Homo sapiens: one gene and its partners. The protein of the gene in region 1 interacts with the protein of each later gene in a pairwise test. Each region holds a gene or a part of one and is shown in the gene's direction. Other genes may lie near its edges.

Region 1 (7,024 bases):
TTTTTCTCCATGCCTTTATTTTGAGCCTATTTGTGTTATTGCATGTGAGATGGGTCTCTTGAAGACAGCATACCAATGGGTCTTGGTTCTTTATCTAGCTTGCCATTCTGTTTTTTTTTTTTTTTTGTTTTGTTTTTTGAGACAGAGTCTTGCTCTGTCTCCCAGGCAGGCTGGAGTGCAGTAGCACAATCTCGGCTCACTGCAACCTCTGCCTCCTAGGTTCAAGTGATTCTCCTGCCTCAGCCTCCCAAGTAGCTGGAATTATAGGCACCCAACACCATGCCTGGCTAATTTTTCTATTTTTTAGTAGAGATGGGTTTTCATCATGTTGGCCAGGCTGGTCTTGAACTCCTGGCCTCAAGTGATTCACCTGCTTCAGCCTCTCAAAGTGCTGGGATTACAGACATGAGCCACCATGCCTGGTCTGTTTGATGACCTTGAGGTTTTGATTGTGGTATAAGGTGGATTCAGCCAACTGGCTTCATTTATGGAATATTTAAGGGGCCAGTGCCCAGCTGCCAACTCCTGGACTCTGCATGCTCTAGCTCTGGGGGACTTGTTTTGGGCCCTGACTTTGTTCTCTGGCTCCTTGAGGTTTGGAATCCACTGCACTGGGGGGCTGAGGTACTGCAGCTACAGCAGAGTGGCTGGCAGATGCAGAGTGCCTGCCTTCCTGTGGGGGTTCACCACAGTGGTGGAGGCAAAGCAGCTGGGGTGGGGATGGGGGGCTCCTGTTGGAGACTGTGTGCAGTTACTCTGGAGGTACTATAGGCATGGGTGGGGTGCTGGTTGGCACAGGTCTAGGTGCCTTTTCTGTGCCCTGCAAGCAGGAGTGATCGCTCAGGGTGGGGGAGGATCCACTGTTCTCTGCTCAGTGTTAGGTCAAAGGCAGGGTTCTGGCGGGTATGGGGCTTGCTGGCTCTGTGTCTGCCAAGGCTTCACCTGCAATGGAAGTCTGTAGGGAAAGGGGAGGCCCACTGGACTCCTGCATGCTGGTGGGGGAAGGAAATCAAAACCCACCTGTGCAGACATCAGCAGAGTGATGTGGGGAGTTGCCTGGGCCCAGGGGAAGCTACAATATGAGGAGGGAGCAGGCAGGCTGGTGTGTGGCCGTCGGGGCTGTCTCACTGGAGCTCTCCACTGGCCAGGCACAGTCTGCTGGCACAGAAGCTATGGTGAAGACCCCCAGGGCACCCAAGACTGCCCTGCAAGCAGGCATGGCCAGGCTGGGGCCCCAGGAGAGGCCAGCAGACGAAGGGGTGCTCAGGTTGGACTGGTCCCATCTGATGGGTAAGACCACCCTGCAGAGAACAGGTCTGACAGTTCCCCTAGGTCCAAAGTCTCCTGTGGGAGCAAATCAAGCCTGGGGGACGGCCGTCCCTGGCTGTGTTCCTGCACCAGACCCTCTGGGTTCTGCTTCAGCTGGCTGCTGCCCCCATCACTTCTCTAAGCAGCTCTCCCTGCCAACTAGAGTGTCCATGGTGGGCAAGGGGTCTCCCCCAGCTGGGGTTCCAGAGGCCCATGGCAACAGTGGGTTGCTCCTTGCCCGTTTAACTCCCCCATTTCCCCAGAGCTGTTGTGGGTCCAAAAATGAGCACCAGTGCTCAGTAGTCCCAGGCAGGTTCCCAGCTTTCTCCCCTTCAGCCCAGCTTCTGTGTGCTCCCTCCATCTGCCCTCAGCACCTTCCCTCTGAAGATGTGTTAGAAGCTCACCAGTCATCTCAGGCCCTCCGTGGGAGCTGTATCATCTGGCTGCATCTGGCCGGCCATCCCGCCCTTCCAATCCACATGAACTTCTTATTTCTGTCTTTGTCCTTATTACTCAGAACTCGGGCCTTGGCCTTGACTTTCATGGGGCCTCCTCCAGGGAAGGTGAGAGAGGGTTTTGGCCGCATCCTGGTCCTCCTGACCAGCTGTGGGAAGGACCAACGGTCCCATCTGCCCAGAGGAGGGAGGTTTGCACAGGCTGGATGCTGTGGAAGAGTCCTTCCTGTTCTTATTTTTGGAAAACAGAAAATTTGAGAAATGGCTCATCTTGTTCGGTGTTTGTGAGCCTATCTCTGTACCAGTGGAGGTATCTCAGCTTCTTGCCAGGGACCGTATCTGGTATCTTGCTACGCTGCACAGCCACTGGGTTCTGCACACCCTGCCTCTTGCTCTCCACCCCACCGCCTCGTGCTCTGCACACACCCCTGCCTCATGCTCTCCACCCCCATCTTGTGCTCTGCACACCTCCCCGCTTTGTGCTCTGCACAACCCCCGCCTCACGCTCTGTGCATCCTCCGCCTCACGCTCTGTGCATCCCCCGCCTCACGCTCTTTGCATCCCCCACCTCACACTCTGTGCATCCCCCGCCTCATGCTCTGCACTCCTGCCTCATGCTCTGTGCATCCCCCGCCTCATGCTCTGCACTCCTGCCTCATGCTCTGTGCACACTCCTGCCTCGTGCTGTGTGTTCTTGATCATGTTTGGATGAGACTTTGTGCAATTATTTTTGGCCTGGCCATGGTTTTTTTTTTTTTTTTTTTTTTTCTGGGGGTTATCTTTGTAGGAATTTGACATCAGAGTTGTGACAAATTTTGAAACCTAATTGAGCATCTTTTAACCTGTTCTACGGTTCCAGCCTCATTTGTATGATGTCGGGATTATGACTTGTTTGGGAACTTGGCACACTCACCCACAGACCATCCAGGCCTGCAGCCCTCTGGGGAATAATCATTTCATAACTTTTAGATTTTCCTTCTTTGTGTATTGGTTCATTTAGGTTTTCTACTTCTTATTGAGTCACTTGAAAGTAATTTTCCAGGCTATCTCCTTTTATTGAAATTTTAATTAATACATAATTGTACATAATATTCTTTTATAATTTGAAAAGTGTCTGGGGTGGGGGGTCTGTGAAGCCTGAGGACTCCAGGCCTCCCACGTGGCAGGAGGCCGGGCACACGCTGATGACTTTGCTTCTTTCGAACTTTTTTTCCTTGGAAAACATTTCAGAGGGAAGATTAGTTGGTTCCTTTGTAGGCACATTTTTTTTTTTTTTTTTGAGATGGATTCTTGCTCTGTCGCCCAGGCTGGATTGCAGTGGCACGATCTTGGCTCACTGCAAGCTCCAGTAGGCACATTTTAAGGTATAATTTTTTGATATGGCTCCGAACACTTTCTCTAATATGTATTTGCTTTATTGCTAGGAGAATACACATGACATGGAGGTAGAATAGAATTTCATAAGCCATAAAGGCATAGATAAGCTAAATTTGGCCAGGGATTGGGGAAATGCCACATGACCTCATCAGCCTGGTTGGGGAATATTCAGTCCTCATGAGGGTGTGGGGCCAGGAGGTGTTGGTGGGCATGGACCCTCCCCCTTGGTGTGGAAAGCAAAGAAAGTGAACACACCTGAGCCCAGCGTCAGACCACAGAGGATGTTCACAGAGCAGGAGGCTCCTCCCCATCCACAAAGGATGTTCACAGAGCAGGAGGCTCCTCCCCATCCACAGAGGATGTTTACAGAGCAGGGAAGCTCCTCCCCATCCACAGAGGATGTTCACAGAGCAGGAGGCTCCTCCCCATCCACAGAGGATGTTCACAGAGCAGGGAGGCTCCTCCCCATCCACAGAGGATGCTCACAGAGCAGGGAGGCTCCTCCCCATCCACAGAGGATGTTCAGAGAGCAGAGGGCTCCTCCCCATCCACAGAGGATGTTCACAGAGCAGGAGGCTCCTCCTGGACCACAGAGGATGCTCACAGAGCAGGAGGCTCCTCCCCATCCACAGAGGATGTTCACAGAGCAGGGAGGCTCCTCCCCATCCACAGAGGATGTTCACAGAGCAGGGAAGCTCCTCCCCATCCACAGAGGATGTTCACAGAGCAGGAGGCTCCTCCTGGACCACAGAGGATGCTCACAGAGCAGGAGGCTCCTCCACATCCACAGAGGATGTTCACAGAGCAGGAGGCTCCTCCTGGACCACAGAGGATGCTCACAGAGCAGGAGGCTCCTCCCCATCCACAGAGGATGCTCACAGAGCAGGGAGGCTCCTCCCCATCCACAGAGGATGTTCACAGAGCAGGAGGCTCCTCCTGGACCACAGAGGATGCTCACAGAGCAGGAGGCTCCTCCCCATCCACAGAGGATGCTCACAGAGCAGGGAGGCTCCTCCCCATCCACAGAGGATGCTCACAGAGCAGGAGGCTCCTCCCCATCCACAGAGGATGCTCACAGAGCAGGGGGCTCCTCCCCATCCACAGAGGATGTTCACAGAGCAGGGGGCTCCTCCCCATCCACAGAGGATGCTCACAGAGCAGGAGGCTCCTCCCCATCCACAGAGGATGCTCACAGAGCAGGGGCTCCTCCCCATCCACAGAGGATGCTCACAAAGCAGGAGGCTCCTCCCCATCCACAGAGGATGCTCACAGAGCAGAGGCTCCTCCCCATCCACAGAGGATGCTCACAGAGCAGGGGCTCCTCCCCATCCACAGAGGATGCTCACAGAGCAGGGGGCTCCTCCCCATCCACAGAGGATGTTCACAGAGCAGGGGGCTCCTCCCCATCCACAGAGGATGCTCACAGAGCAGGGGCTCCTCCCCATCCACAGAGGATGCTCACAGAGCAGGGGGCTCCTCCCCATCCACAGAGGATGCTCACAGAGCAGGGGCTCCTCCCCATCCACAGAGGATGCTCACAGAGCAGGGGGCTCCTCCCCATCCACAGAGGATGTTCACAGAGCAGGGGGCTCCTCCCCATCCACAGAGGATGCTCACAGAGCAGGGGCTCCTCCCCATCCACAGAGGATGCTCACAGAGCAGGGGGCTCCTCCCCATCCACAGAGGATGCTCACAGAGCAGGGGCTCCTCCCCATCCACAGAGGATGCTCACAGAGCAGGGGGCTCCTCCCCATCCACAGAGGATGTACACAGAGCAGGAGGCTCCTCCCCATCCACAGAGGATGCTCACAGAGCAGGGGGCTCCTCCCCATCCACAGAGGATGCTCACAGAGCAGGAGGCTCCTCCCCATCCACAGAGGATGCTCACAGAGCAGGGGCTCCTCCCCATCCACAGAGGATGCTCACAGAGCAGGGGCTCCTCCCCATCCACAGAGGATGCTCACAGAGCAGGGGGCTCCTCCCCATCCACAGAGGATGCTCACAGAGCAGGAGGCTCCTCCCCATCCACAGAGGATGTTCACAGAGCAGGGGGCTCCTCCTCATCCACAGAGGATGCTCACAGAGCAGAAGGCTCCTCCCGGGAGGCCAATTACAGCTGTGTGTTTGCACGGAAACATGGAAACAGGCCCTGTCCATCAATAGGGCAAGGGTTAAAAATTCAGTGTGTGTGTCTGTATGTGTGCTCATGTGTACAGAGTTGCCAGGAAACAGTTAAATGAACCAGGTAGCTACCAGATGGCTCAGGGTGGATAAATCTCAAAGAGATAATGCAGCAGCAAAAAGTTCAGTTGCAGAATAAAATGTGTAGGGTGCTACCATTTATGTACAACTTAAGCATATAAAAGTCATTCTCCAGTGTGTGTGGGCACACAGGCAGGCAGGAGGCACACGGAGGCCTGCCCGCTTGCTGTGCCCATAGACGCAGTGCTCCCACGGGCAGGATGGGCACCTGTGGCCACTTCACCACATCCAGCTCCTCCTTTTACACTTGAGGCCTGAGGGGAAGGAGGATGCTCTGAAGCCAGGGAAACCCCGGCAGGTGTTGAAGCTTGGGGTGGGGTGCATAGGGGTTGTTAACATGTTCTTTATACTTCCCAGGAATGTTTTAGGAGCATCAGCCTGATTTCTCATCCCTTTCCTCCCCGCCTCAGTTCCAGATTTCGGAAGGTTCACGAGTGTTGCCGACACGCCCTCCCAACTGCAGACATCCTCCCTGGAGGACCTGCTGTGCTCACATGCCCCCCTGTCCAGCGAGGACGACACCTCCCCGGGCTGTGCAGCCCCCTCCCAGGCACCCTTCAAGGCCTTCCTCAGTCCCCCAGAGCCACATAGCCACCGAGGCACCGACAGGAAGCTGTCCCCGCTCCTGAGCCCCTTGCAAGACTCACTGGTGGACAAGACCCTGCTGGAGCCCAGGGAGATGGTCCGGCCTAAGAAGGTGTGTTTCTCGGAGAGCAGCCTGCCCACCGGGGACAGGACCAGGAGGAGCTACTACCTCAATGGTATGGCCGGGTGCGGGGGCACCTGGGGGGGCCCCCAGTGCAGGCTGGCAGCTGTGGGGAGGGCATGACTGGGTGGTCAGGCAGGGCCGTTTCTCCATCCAGTCACACAGAGTGGAGGGAGGAGAGCCAGGCTGGGAGGCTGGGGTCCAAGGCTGTGTCTGTCCTAGTCTTTTGTCCATCTTTAAAGATAAAATGGGTTGCTTATCTTCTTCTTGGGAAGTTGTGAGAGTTCTTTATGTGTCTGGATATGAGTCCTTTTTTGGGTGTATGTTTTGCAGATACGGTCTCCCACTCCATGGTTTTTCATTTTCATAATAATGTTTTTTGATGAGCAAAACTGTTTAATTTGATGATGTCCAATTTATTGATTTTTCTTTTGTATTTTATGCTTTTTATGTTCAGTTTAAGAAATCTTTGCCAAGCCCAAGGTCACACAGATTCTCTCCTGTGTGTTGTTCTAGAAGTTTTATAGTTTAGGTTTTACATGTAGGTCTCTGATCAATTCCAAGTTAATTTTCATATATGGTGTGAGGTTTGCATGTAGATATCCACCTGAGGCTCAGGCCAGCCTCCCACCTCAGCCTCCCAGGTATCTGGGACTACAGGTGTATGCCACCAGGCCTGGCTAATTTTTTGGTTTTTGTGTTTTTGTTATTGTAGAGATGGGATTTTGCTACGATGCCCAGGCTGGTCTTGACCTCCCGGGCTGAAGCAATTCGCCTGCCTCGGCCTCCCAAAATGCTGGGATTACAGGCATGAGCCACCATGCCTGGCCTGTCAATTTTATTTATCTTTTCAAATAACCGATTTTTTGTTACATTGATCTGTTGTATTGTTTTCTTCATTTAAATTTCATTTATT
Region 2 (7,134 bases), on another chromosome or scaffold:
CCCAAGTAGCTGGGATTACAGTCGTATGCTACCACACCCAGCTAATTTTTGTATTTTTATTTTTATTTACTTATTATTTTGAGATGGAGTCTTGCTCTGTTGCCCAGGGTGGAGTGCAGTGGCAGCATCTCTGCTCACTGTAACCTCTGCCTCCTGGGTTCAAGCGATTCTCGTGCCTCAGCCTCCCGAATAGCTGGGACTACAAGTGCGTGCTACCATGCCTGGCTAATTTTTTTGTATTTTTATTAGAGAGGCGTTTCATGTTGGCCAGGCTGGTCTCAAACTCCTGACCTCAGGTGATCCACCTTCCTTGGTCTCCCAAAGTGCTGGGATTGCAAGCGTGAGCCACTGCGCCTAGCCTAATTTTTGTATTTTTAGTGGGGGGTGGTTTTGCGATGTTGGTCAGGCTAGTCTCGAACTACTGACCTCAGGTGATCCACCTGCCTCGTTCTCCTAGTGCTGGGATTATAGGCGTAAGCCACTGCACCCAGCCAGCAATTTTTAATTCTCTATTTTTTGCTCTGGAGGTCCTAAGTTTTAGATTCAGTGACACATTGCTGTGCCATTCATGCTGCTGGGTACTGTCGATTAGCAGTCAGCATCCATTCCCATCTCCTTCTAGTGTCCCTTCCTATGCTGCAGAATCTGGAGAGTTAAAATGTCATGGCCAGGATTTGGAAATGAAGTGGAGGCCACCCGCCTGCTGCTTGCTGCTGAAGTGTGGCAGCAAAGGTATGAGGTGTGTCTGCAGCAGGGTTGCAGGGTCCAGTCACTAGCCATGTAGGGGTCGAGAGCCTGTTTCAGGGGCAGCAATAGTGATGGTGACTTCCAATCCCTTAATCACAGCCACAACAGTGTGTTGTTGAGCTTAACAGGTACAGTGGTGATGTCCTGATTTCTTACCTTCCTGATTGCAGCAAAAATGGGTAGCTACCCTGTTGGGACAGTTTGGAGTCATCCCTGCAGAGTCATTCTCTAGCCTCCCTGATAATTTGTATTACTTAATTCCTTATATGAATTCTTTTCTGTTTAAACTAGCCAGGTTGCTTTTTGCTTAAACTAGCCAGGTTGGTTTTAACTGAACCTTGAAAAATATACTGAAGTTCAGAGCATCTAACACTAAAGGTTGTGCTGGTCTTGGTGGCGAGAGTAAGTCCCACAGCAGACCACAACAGATCTAGAGATCATAAGGCCTCTAACATTTCCTATGCCTAGTTGTCAGGGGCATGTCCTATGCAGGCCACCCCAAAAAGCCCTTTTACGTTAGCAGTCTGGAATGTTACTAGGTCATCCAGTACAGGTTGCGTGTGCCATAGTCATAAAATTTGGGACCTGAAACTTGGAGCCTGGATGCAGGAGATGTGGAATGAATACTAGGGTGAGTTCCAGGTACAGTCATAATTAAGGTGAAGGCATCAGTGACATGACTTCCCAGGTAAGAAGATACAAAAGGCTGAGCCCAGAGAAGCTTGGTGCTCCTCACTTCTGATGCTTTCTCTGCTGCTATGATGATCAAAAGTCCTCAGCACCTGAGCTGGCCTTTGGGAACCAGGTGGCAAGGACAGCCACACTAACAGGAAAGATGTAACTGCTGCTGTCCCTCTCTGGGTATCCAGCTTTACAAGAAATAGGTAAACTACTTTTCTTTGATAGATAGTATAGTGGTGTTTGGCTGACATTTTACCTTCTAAAATTATTAAGTTATCTTTAGAGTGAACTGCAATTACATTTTTGACAAGCTCTAAAATATATCCTAAACAAACCCCTCCATCTCTACCACCTCTACCCTATCCCCAGTTATCAGCATCTATCAGCAGGGGAGAGATCATATCTTATCTCTTCCCTGCTTAAGATCCTTCGAAGGTGTCCCTTCACATTCATAAGAAAAAATCCAAACTCCTTAAGGTGGCCTACAAATTCCTACATAATCTGGCCTTTGCTTCTCTATCCATTCATATTTCCTGTCGCTTGGACTGGCTACATAATTTGTGGGGCCCAATGCAAAATGAAAATGCAGAGCTCCTTGTTCAAAAACTACTAAGAATTTTAAGAGGGCAATGGCAGAGCATTAAACCAGGCATCAGCCCTTTCCTTTTTTTTAATTTTTAAAATATTTATTTAGATTTTCTTTTTGTTAGTAATTAAATCTTTCTTCTTCTTCTTCTTCTCCTCCTCCTCCTTCTCCTTCCTCTCCTTCCTCTTCCTCTTCTTCTTCTTCCCTCTTCCCTCTCTCCTCCTCCTCGTCCTCCTCCTCCTTGAAACAGTGCAGTGGCACAATCTCAGCTCACTGCAACCTCCACTTTCCATGTTCAAGTGATTCTCATGCCTCAGCCTCCCGAGTAGCTGGGATTACAGGTATGTGTCACCATGCCCAGCTAATTTTTGTATTTTTAGTAGACACTGGGTTTTGCCATGTTGGCCAGGCTGGTCTCAAGTGATCCGCCCGCCTCAGCCTCCCAAAGTGCTGGGATTACAGGTGTAAGCCACCGCACCTGGCTCTTTTTTTGTTTTGTTTTGTTAAGTATAAAACCTCACCTGGAAGCACCAGCCCTTTCTGAGTGTGCGGGCCTGTGCCACTGCGTGGGTTGCACGTCCATTAAGCTGGTCTACCTGCCATCCACTTCCTCAACCCAATGGCATTCTCCTGTTTCTTAGATATGTACCAACCGGTTTTCTGTTTTATCTTAGCATGGCTCACTACTCCTCATTAGGGTCTCTCAGCGAAGGGGGTAGCCTTTTTTTTTTTTTTTTTTTTTTTTGAGACAGAGTCTTGCTCTGCTGCCCAGGCTGGAGTGCAGTGGCCAGATCTCCACTCACTGCAATCTCTTTGGTTCAAGCATTCTCCTGCCTCAGCCTCCCAAGTAGCTGGGATTACTGGCCCACGCCCGGCTAATTTTTGTATTTTTAGTAGAGATGGGGTTTCACCATGTTGGCCAGGCTGGTCTCGGACTCCTGACCTCAGGTGATCCACCCGCCACCACTCCAGCCTGGGCAACAGAGTCTGAGACTCCGTCTCAAAAAAAAAAAAAAAAAAAAAAAAAAAGTCATACTGGCATAGAGTGAACCCCTAATCCAATATGACTGGTATCCTTATAAAAATACTTTTTTTTTGGAGACGGAGTCTCTCTCTGTCGCCCCAGGCTGGAGTGCAGTGGCGCGATCTCGACTCACTGCAACCAAAAGGAGACATTTTGACATGGAGACATATACAGGGAATATGCCCTGTGAACATGAAGATGGCCATATGCAAGCCCAGGAGAGAAGCCTGGAAGAGACCGTTTCCTCACAGCGCTCAGAAGGAAAGAACCCTGCCAACATCTTGCTTTCAGATGCCCCCAGGATTGTCAGACAATAAGATCTGTTATTGACGCCACCGGGTTGGTGATACTTAGGTACAGCAGCCCTAGCAAACGAATACACCCCCATGAGAACTAAGCTCCCTGAGAGCGGTAAGCTGCCTTGTCTTGCTCACAGCTGACAAGAACACGCCTGTACGGTCACTTAGCACCTAGTACTGCCATTTAACCGTTTCACTAGTATGTATGAACCGGAGAGCCTGTCAAGGGAAGAGCTGAATCTTTTATCTTTTGTAACGACTACCCAGTGAAAGAAACCGCGGGTATGCAATAAAAACCTGTTGAATCGATTAAACCATTTCCCTTATTTCCAGATTTTTGCGGAAAGCGCCAGTAGGTGAAATATGTGCGGACTGATGAGTCAAAGCTCTTATTCCCTGGACTGCATTAATACCCACGACGTGCTTTTCGCTCTCCAGACAAAGAGACCGGTACTTGGCAGGTCCCTCAAGTGGGACTCAAAAGACCGAACCGAGCTGCAGCCTTTCGCTAGCACTGGTCCTCGCCCCTTTTGGCATCTTGGTACTTGTAGTTTTGTCCACTCTATCTTTACCCGAAAAGCCAGCGCTGAGACCACAACTCCCATCACCCTGCGAGCACCAGCGCCTTCAGAGCGCATCCTCCGAGGGGCACCAGCGCCATTGACCACCCTGCTGGCCGAAGGGCCCGCCTTCCCGAGGCCAGGCGCTCCCGCGATTGGCCAGCCGCCCCGCCTCTCATCGGAGGGCGCCAGGTGAATGAAAGGGGGGCGTGTCGGTGCGCGGTGCTCCGTGGCTGCGCTGCTGGAACCCGCTGGAAGGTGAGCGCGAAGAAGCGGGTTGGCGCTGCCGCTTTCGTTGGTTTGGGGAGGATTCCTAGCACCCGGGAGGCTGGCTGGAGATTGGGGTTAGCGGGCAGGGTTGCCCCCACTCAGTCATCCTCCTTCGGACCGCTTGGCCCTGGCAACTCCTGGGACCTCCGCCCCGCGAGCCCTTCTAGCGTGGGGAGGGGCAGGCGCGGCCGTGGGGCCCCAGCTTCCCTGTCATTGGGTGTCCTCCGCGTCGTCCAGCCGGGGGTCGCGGCGCCGACTACTTCCACGGTGAATGGTGCCCAGGCGTGGGGGGCTCGGCCACACTGGAGAAGTGCCAGCGGCAGCGATGGCCACTTTGTCCGCGGGAGGCCATGGGAGGGGCTAGGCCTTGGGGTCCCACCCTCGGGGGCCGTGCCCTGTAGCTGGTTCTGGTGGCCTCTCTGCAGGTCGTCTGATGCTGGACGGGGGAGGGTCTGTCTTGCGAGCAGTTTAGATGCAGTTGACCCTGAAATTCTTCGTATGGAAATGGAAACTTCTCCAGTGTCCTTCTCCTCCGATCCATGCCTAAAAGAAAGGAGTGACTTCCCCAACCTGTCGCATCGTGTCCTGGAGGGTTTGAGGAGGCCGGTTAGCATAGTGGTTAAGGATGTCAACCCGGGAGTCAGTCGGATCTCTGTTCTATTACTAACTTGGTGATGTTATCTGCATCTTTGAATCTCAGTTCCTCCTCTGAAAAAGAGGATGTAGTTAGAGTATCTGTCGTACTGGATTATTGTGAGGTGAAAACTAATGTGCTTGTAAAAGCCAGGCATGGTGGCGCGCACCTGTAGTCCCTGCTACTCGGGAAGCTAAGGTTGGGAGGATCTCTTGAGCCCAGGAGTTCCAGGCTGCATTGAGGTAGGATCGTGCACTCCAACCTGGGCAACCGAGCAAGACCGTGCCTTTTAAAAATTTTAATTTAAAAAGTAAAATGAATATGCTTGTACTTTGTACAGTGTTTTATAAGGAATAGTGCTTAATATTTACTAAAATTGAGGAGCAGGTTTTTGTTATTCTCAGGTTGGTGGGACTGGAGGAGTCTTGTCAGAAAGGGTCGGAGGTGGAATTCAAGGCTGCTTTTGGCCTCTGAACAGAGACAGTTGTGTGATCTGGCTAGGACTCCCTCAAGGGTATATGAGAGTTTGTATTGCAGGTAGTTGTGTTGGCATCTGCTGTCTCCTGGAGGACAGGCACTATACTTGGTTCATTTTTCTATTCCTGGCATCTTCCTTGTGTCAGGCATTGTATGTAGCCGGTAACCGTTGAATTGAGTTGGAACCGTGGGATGGTTGGGAGGTTCCCTGCCAGAGTGCGGATAAATGTGCTTCTGAGAGCAGTCTGCCCTAAGAGCTGCTCTTCTGGGATAAGTGGTGATCCTCAGCACTTCCCGGGGCAGCAGAGCACTTCAGGCAAATGGGGGTGATATAAATAAATATTTACACAATATATACCAAGTACAGGATTGGGGAAAATTTTGAAGAAAATACTATACGGATAGACTTTTGCAACGTCAGGAAGTAGAATAAAAATAATTGCAATAGAATAAAAAATAATTTCAGTAAGAAAGCCAAAAGAAATTGGTTTTAGGTGCTATTTCTGGAAAGGAGGCTTTTCCAGTGAAAGACGGAAGTGCCCTGGGAAGAGCCCCTATAGATCAGACCATACTACAAGTTAAGAAGTGTTGTGCGTACTTACATATTTATCTACCTGGCTTACCAACTCCTTACCCCTCTGCCCTGCCTCCTTTTTTTCTTAGTTAACAAAGAAAAAAGCCAAGGCAGAAGGATCACTTGAGTCCAGGAGTTCAAGACCATTGAGACCAGCCAGGGCAACATAGTGAGACCCCATCTCTACAAAAAAATGTTTTCAGAATTAGCTGAGTGTGGTGCTGCATGCCTGTAGTCACAGCTACTTGGGAGGCTGAGGTAGGAGGATTGCTTGAGCCTGGGAGGTCGAGGCGGCAGTGAACTGTGATCATGGACTGCACTCCAGCCTGGGTAACAAAGTAAGACCCCGTCTCAAAAGAAAAGAAAAGCAATACATGCACATAGTAAAACATTCTATCAGAAAGGTTTAAAATGAAAGGCGAAAGTCCCTCCACACACTTGTTTTTTTTTTTTTTTTTGAGATGGAGTCTCGCACTATCGCCCAGGCTGGAGTGCAGTGGCACAATCTCTGCTCACTGCAGCCTCCGCCTCCACCGCCTCCTGGGTTCAAGTGATTCTCCTGCCTCAGCCTCCCGAGTAGCTGGGATTACAGGTGCCCGCCACCATGCCCAGCTAATTTTTTTGTATTTTTAGTAGAGACGGGGTTTCACTACGTTGGCCAGGCTGGTCTCGAACTCCTGACCCCAGGTGATCTACCCACCTTGGCCTCCCAAAGTGCTGGGATTACAAGTGTGAGCCACCACACCCGGCCCCAAGTGGATTTTAAACTTGGTTTATAGTTTATCTACTAAGCAGTTAAGAAATGAATATTCCTTTTTTGCTTAACAAATCTATTTTGTCCAAAGCACTCTGCCAGATACTGTAAGGGATATAAAATTGAATAAGACATGGCTCATGCTTTCAAAGGGCTTGTAGTTCATTGACAGAGAAGGGCCAGGACATAAATAATAAACAGGAGTTAACCAAGGGTAGTGGAATCAGTCAGTTAGGAGTCTCCCAGTTGCATGAAATAGAAAACCCAACTCAGAGGCCAGGTGTGGTGTCTCACACCTGTAACCCCAGCACTTTAGGAGGCTGAGGGGGGCAGATCACTTGAGGCCAGGAGTTCGAGACCAGCCTGGGCAACATGGCAAAACCCTGTCTCTACCAAAAGTACAAAAAAAATTAGCCTGGCGTGGGGGTGGGTACCTGTAGTCCCAGCTACTCGGGAGGCTGAGGTAGGATGATTACTTTAGCCAGGGAGGCGGAGGTCAGAGTGGGCCGAGATCACACCACTGCACTG
Region 3 (6,841 bases), on another chromosome or scaffold:
TTTATTTACAAATTATATATTAAGAGAAACAAATGTCATAACAGAACTCAGCTGTTTCTAATTGCTTTTGTGACTGTTACCTTTTAGTTCATGCCCCCCCAAAGAGCTAAATTTCACATTTTTACCTACAAAATTGATTTTTAATTCCTGGCAAATAATTTACCATTATGAGCTACAAGGTGGGCAACAGCGCCTGAGGATCTAATTTTATGCATATTACTCCCAAGTATTTTAACACTTGTTGGAGAAGCAATATCTGGATCGATAAAACACTGTCCCATCAACCATTTGAGTGGGGAGAGGGAGAAGCTCTTCTGTAAGTAAGATTCTGGCAAGCTCTTTGAAATGAGTCTTCTTTCCCACAGATTTTCTCTACTCTTTCTATACAAACAGATAGGAGAAGAGGGAATAGAAACCTGGAGGAACTTGAATATTTTTGTTCTAGATAGAGATACAGTTACTGAAAAGGAAACCTAGAAAGTAGTCACACGTTGCTTATTTAGGCCAGAAGTAATTGTACTGGGCAAAAATTTCACTTAAAAAACACAAGAAGTCCAGGTATGGTGGCTCAGACCTGTAATCCCAGCACTTTGAGAGGCCGAGGCAGGTGGATTACTTGAGCCTAGGGGTTCAAGACCAGCTTGGGCAACATGTCAAAACCCTGTCTCTACAAAAAATACAAAAATTAGCCTGGCATGATGGCATGTGCCCGTAGTCTCAGCTACTCAGGAGTGAGGTGGGAGGATCATTTGAGCTCAGAAGGTCAAGGCTGCAATGAGACATAATTTCACCATAGTACTTCCAGCCTGGGCAATAGAGCAAGACTCTCTCTCAAAAAAAACAGCACACACACACACACACGAAAACAATTCTGAACTATGAAATCTGAAACAGCCCCTTGGTATCTCCTGGGCATGATTTGCAAATCTTTTTTTTTTACAGAAAAAAGGCAAAGAGTAAGCACTTTGCCATAGGTTACTTGGCCGTGATCATCTATCTAGTGGAAAAGGGGACTGGGAAGCCCAAGCAGACTGGGAAACCAGACAGCTAGGAAAAGGAGCAAAACATAGCCCAGCAACCTACAGATGAAGAAAGTTGAGAAATCCATTTATTCACCATAGAGACGCAGGAATTTCAGGCAATGCACTAAAATGAAATGGGGGAAAAAAGCTTGATCAGTATGGGAACCATTTTTGTGCAAAAGGGAATATTATGGATCAGCCAGTATTTCTTTGAGCTCTGCCTGTGGAGTCCATTTGACCTTTAGAAATATGAGGTATTCTGTCAGTTTTATCTTCTTGGAGAAATTTCTCCTAAAATCTTGATTTGCTTTAGTCTGGACTGGTTCATAGCCATCATCTTCCATCAGTACCCCAGAGATTCACTTTGTCTCTTATGTGGGATCTGTTTCCAGTTAGATGCCATTATTTTCCTTTTCCTTGGTTTACTCTTCCACATATTGGTAAAGCTCTTCCAATAGCTTTTGGAAAGGAAAAATGAAAAGTAAATGTTTTGAATCTCTGTGTGTTTGACAATGTCTTTATTTTACCCTTATACCTGATTGCTGTTTTGGTTGGCAAGGTATAGGATTCTTTAGTGGTCTCCATGCCCAGTTTTGAAGACATCTGCTAGCTTTCAGTGCTGTTGCTGTGGAGTCTGAAAATCTGTCTTCTGGCTTCCAGGGTGACTACTGGAAATTGAATGCCATTCTGTTCCTTCTCTTTTGCATATATAATCCATTTTTATCTCTCTTGAAGCTTATAGGTTTATCTTTGTCTCAATGTTCTGTCCCTGTTAAGAGTCCATTTTCATCCTTTGTACTAGGTGCCTGGTGGGATCATTCCGTCTGAAACTAATGATTTCCCATCTCTTCACTGTTTCTGGAATTCCTGTTTTCCAGATGTTAGACCTCCAGAATTTGATCTCTAATTTTCCTATCTTTTCTCTTAACTTTCAGCTCTGTCTTCTTGCTAGGACCTTTTCCTAGGAGCATTTCTCAATTTAATCTTCCAGTTCATCTGTTGCATTTTATTTTTCTAGTCTCATATTGTCTCATATTTTTAATTTCTAAGAGCTCCCCTTCTCCGAATATTCTTTTTTTTTAATAGCATCCTATTTTGGCTCATGGTTGCAGTATTTTATCTCCTTGAAGATGTTTGTGTGTTTATGTATGTATATGCACACACGTATACATACACATACAGGCATGCATCTCTGTATTCTTTCGGCATAATCTGTGTCCTCCAGGGTTTGTTTCTTTGTTTCCCCTGTATGTTTGTTTTGGTCGTTCACATTATAGGCTTTCCTCAGAGTTAATGGTCTTGGTAGTCTACTCATATTTAAGTGTGGAACACCAAAAAGCTTACTATAAGCTGAGAGTGTGGTAAAGGGCTCTTTGTTTTACTATGACCTACCTGAGCTATCTTGCTGGGGAACACCCTAATGTCAGTCTCTTTATAAAGGGCCTTTCATTTTGGCCTGGCAAGAAATACTCTTTCATCCTCCTGCATGGAGGGCAAAAAAAAATTTAAAAATTGGCTGCTAGGGTCTGTCTGCTCACTTCCCTGTTTTGCAGACCCCACACTCTTCTGCAATTCATTTCATAGTTGTCAAGACTATACAAATTGTCCTTTTTAATGTTCTCTCTTCTGCTATCCCTAGTTGGCAGTCTTCCTCTTTACAACCTGCTGAAAGTGGAAGACCTCCAGTTTTCCTTTAATTCCTCAGCAAACCACCAACTATTATATGTCTTTTTTCCAGAACAACTTATTTTTTAACTATAATTATATGCATTTATGTTAGATTCACTGAAAACCTCATCTTGTATGGTGCTCTGTACCCTATGGGTGCTAAATAAAGGCTTGCTACTGGCAACTGGATTTAGGATCGGCTAATTCTGCGTCCTTTTAAGATATGCTTATTTAAGCCAAACTCGGTATGATAATTTTTTTTTTTTTTTTTTTTTTTTTGAGAGGGAGTCTGGCTCTGTCGCCTAGGCAGGAGTGCAGTGGCGCGATCTTGGCTCACTGCAACCCCCGCCTCCCGGGTTCAAGCGATTCTCCTGCCTCAGACTCCCGAGTAGCTGGGATTACAGGCGCCCGCCACCAAGCCCGGCTAATTTTTGTATTTTTAGTAGAGACGGGGTTTCACCATGTTGACCAGGCTGGTCTCGAACTCCTGACCTCGTGATTCGCCCACCTCGGCCTCCCAAAGTCCTGGAACTACAGGCGTGAGCCACCGCGCCCACCCGGCCAGTATGATAGTTTTTAGGAGGAACCCTCAGGAGAGTGATTGTTTCTCCCGCTGTGTTGTGGGGGGTGGAGTAGGGAAGCCTGGCGTTTGGGGTTTTTTTGTTTGTTTGTTTTTTGTGTGTGTTTGTTTGTTTGTTTGTTTTGAGACGGAGTCCCGCTCTGTAGCCCAGGCTGGAGTGTAGTGGCGCGATCTCGGCTCACTGCAAGCCCCGCCTCCCGATTCAAGCGATTCTCATGCCTCAGTGTCTGGAGTAGCTGGGATTACAGGCACCCGCCACCATGCCCAGCTAATTTTTGTATTTTTAGTAGAGACGGGGTTTCACCATGTTGGTTAGGCTGGTGTTGAACTCCTGACCTCGTGATCCGCCCTCCTCGGCCTCCCAAAGTGCTGGGATTACAGGCGTGAGCCACTGCTCCCGGCGTTTGGGTTTTTTAAGCTATTCAAATTAAGACTAGACTGGAATCTGGAGCAGTGTGTGTGACAACCCCTCTCTGCACACCCAACTTTCCCCGGGCCGGCTAGTGACTCAAAGCGACAGCCCAGATTTAAGAAAACGAAACCTAGTGCAGCTGGGGCACTTCCGGGATCTCGCTATCCGGCCGCCACCCGCAGCTGCAGCACAGTCATGGCCCAGGCGTCGCCGCCCCGGCCCGAGAGGGTGCTCGGCGCCAGCAGCCCGGAGGCCCGGCCCGCGCAGGAGGCGCTCCTCCTTCCCACCGGTGTGTACCGCGGGGGCGGGCGGGCGGGCGGGCGGGGCTGGGCAGCGACGGGCCCGGTCAAGGGGCCTGCCTTCCGGTCGTGGCCGCATGGGGGCCCGACCTGCCCCTACTCCGGGCCGGGGCCCTAGACGCCGGGGCGGCGCTGGACGAACTTGGCTCACCACTCGCGTGCCTGTTGGTGGGGGAGGGGGCCAGAGGACAGGGCGCGGCCCAGGCCAGTTCCACAGGTGGCTCTGACTGCCCATGGTTTCGCGCGAGTGGTGGGCACGCTTCGGTTTACCTCCCCCGCGGGTGACAGCCCAGTGCTTCCACCACAACCGATGTCAACTCTCCTAGCGCCCCTCCGCTCACCGGTAAACCAGGACAGTGGAGGGGCGCCCTGATGCGGTGAGGCAGGGGGCGGCCCTGAGGGAAGAGCTGGGTCTCACGTTCACGGAGGACGTGACTGGAACCCGTCTCCCCTTCTCCAGTCGTTCCAGTCCTCCCCGGCCCTCTACTTGAGTGGGTGGGTCTTCTGATGGGTTCCTGCCCTTGCGTGTGTGTATAGCTCCAAACGGTGTGCCAGGCTCAGGGCAAGGTCCTGAGCATACAAAGATGAGTTAGGCAGACCCTGCCCTAGAGACTCTACTAGGCAACTTTAATGAGGAGGTCAGAACCACAGAGGTACAGATGAGAGACTCCTGACTCCCAGTCTTCAGGGAAAGCTTTTTGAGGAGAGGATGGCTGGGCTTACCCTTTTTTTTTTTTTTTTTTTTTGAGAGGAGTTTCACTCTTGTTGCCCAGGCTGGAGTGCAAAGGCGCTATCTCGGCCCACTGCAACCTCTGCCTCCCGGGTTCAAGCGATTCTCCTGCCTCAGCCTCCCGAGTGGATGGGATTACAGGCATGTGCCACCACGCCCAGCTAATTTTGTATTTTTAGTAGAGAGGGTTTCTCCATGTTTCATGGGCTTACCTTTAAAGGGCAAGACTCAGCCAAAGGTGGAAAAGTTGAAGGGGTGTTCCCAGCAGAGAGGATGACACAAAGGCACCAAACCACAAAACGTCACACGTAAACATCATACGTGGCAACCACAAGCCAATCAGTTGGATATTTCATTCATTGGTATACATATGGACTGTAAGGTAAGTCACGGGAGATGCGCTTCCATCCTGACCTCTTCCTCAAACTCCAGACTGGTATAACCAACTTCTTCCATTTCTGAAATGATCTCAAACTGAGTATGTCCCAAAGAGAATTCTTGTTTCCTCCACTGTATTCAGGTACTCCAAACCTGCTCAACCACCAGCCCATTCCATTCGCCCAGGTGCTCCTTGCAAAAACCTTAGTGGCTCCTCAGGGCCTCTCTTTCCTCCGGACACCCCTTCTAATGCATCAGTCGGGCCAGCCAGTTCTGTGTTCAGCCTGACTGTATCTGGAGCCTGACTGCTTCTCACCACTTCCATTACTGCCACCCAAGCCTACGCCATCATGATCTTCTGTCTGGACTATTGCTTTCCTGGCTTCTATTCTAGCCTTTAATACAGGCAGGCCTGCAGAGCGGCCAAAATGCTTTTTGAAAAACAAAAAGCAAATGTGATTCTCCTACTCAAAACCCACCAATAGTCTCCCATGACTCTCAGAACAATCTATGAGCCTGGCCTGCAGTTTACCCCATGTCCTTATCTGATTTGACTCCTGCCCATCTTAATGACTCTGCTACCCTGCTACCTTGTAGGTCCTCTAAGCCACCAAAGCTGTCCCTGCCTCAGGATCTTTCCATTTGCTATTCTCTGCAAGGAAAACTCATTGCCACATTATCCCATTTTCAGTTCCCCATCATATTCAGGTGTCTGCTCATATACATCTTCCCTCAACCTTGCCTGCCCATCCTGTCTAAAAGAGCACCCCTTGCCCCTGCTCCTGTCACTCTCTACCTCCTTCTGCTCTATTCTTTCTCTATAGTACTTATCACTACCTGGAAAACAAAACAAAACTTGTTTAATGCCTGTCTCTACCACTGGCCACTGGCATGTAAATTCGTCTTACTCTCTTCTATCCTTAGTGCCTAGACTGGTTGGCCTAGTAGTAGTAGTAGGACATAGTAGGTACTCATTAAATATTAAATAATAGTAAGTCCTCATTAAATATTTGTTGAAGGAATGAATGTACTTGTATATAACACTACGGAGCTTGACTTCTGTAGGTGATGGGGAAATATGAGCAGATGTCCATTTCAGGTAGATCATTCTGACAGTAACATAGTACATTTCCGGTAGATCATTCTGACAGTAACCTAGCACATTTCTGGTAAATCATTCTGACAGTAACCTAGTACATTTCCGGTAGATCATTCTGACAGTAACCTAGTACATTTCCAGTAGATCATTCTGACAGTAACCTAGTACATTTCAGATAGATCATTCTGACTGTAACCTAGTACATTTCCGTTAGATCATTCTGACAGTGACCTGGTACATTTCAGGTAGATCATTCTGACAGTAACCTAGTACATTTCAGGTAGATCATTCTGACAGTAGCATAGTGCATTTCAGGTAGATCATTCTGACAGTAACGTAATACATTTCAGATAGATCATTCTGACAGTAATATAAAGAATGCAGTGGGATCATGACAGGGAAAATAGAGACAAGGACAAGAGATCACTGGAATAGACTAGGTGAAAGACCCTGAGGGTAAGGCAGTCCACCTTCCACACCGCTGCCAGCACTGTCTTTCTCTTAAACACACATGGGCACACACACATATAAACATGTGAGTGCACACACACAGATCAAGTAAGTCATGGTCCTTCCAGTGTTAATAAGCACGTACTGGCTGCAAGTACTACAAAAACAATTTGATGTAATTTAAGCATGAGGGATGCTTAGTA

The links. The genes of interacting proteins can lie anywhere in the genome.
Region 2: the proteins of SPATC1L (region 1) and ZBTB8B interact in binary tests that used the Homo sapiens proteins (3 or more experiments, as listed by UniProt).
Region 3: the proteins of SPATC1L (region 1) and PHF11 interact in binary tests that used the Homo sapiens proteins (3 or more experiments, as listed by UniProt).

The regions. Positions count from the first base shown.
Region 1 is NC_000021.9:46,167,447-46,174,470, reverse strand, and holds part of SPATC1L (speriolin-like protein), read left to right. Parts: intron 1-5,812; coding exon 5,813-6,163; intron 6,164-7,024.
Region 2 is NC_000001.11:32,460,951-32,468,084, forward strand, and holds the start of ZBTB8B (zinc finger and BTB domain-containing protein 8B), read left to right. Parts: upstream 1-4,121; 5' UTR 4,122-4,155; intron 4,156-7,134. UniProt on the Homo sapiens protein: May be involved in transcriptional regulation.
Region 3 is NC_000013.11:49,492,125-49,498,965, forward strand, and holds the start of PHF11 (PHD finger protein 11), read left to right. Parts: upstream 1-3,828; 5' UTR 3,829-3,877; coding exon 3,878-3,971; exon of another isoform or gene 3,972-4,358; intron 4,359-4,931; exon of another isoform or gene 4,932-5,093; intron 5,094-6,841. UniProt on the Homo sapiens protein: Positive regulator of Th1-type cytokine gene expression.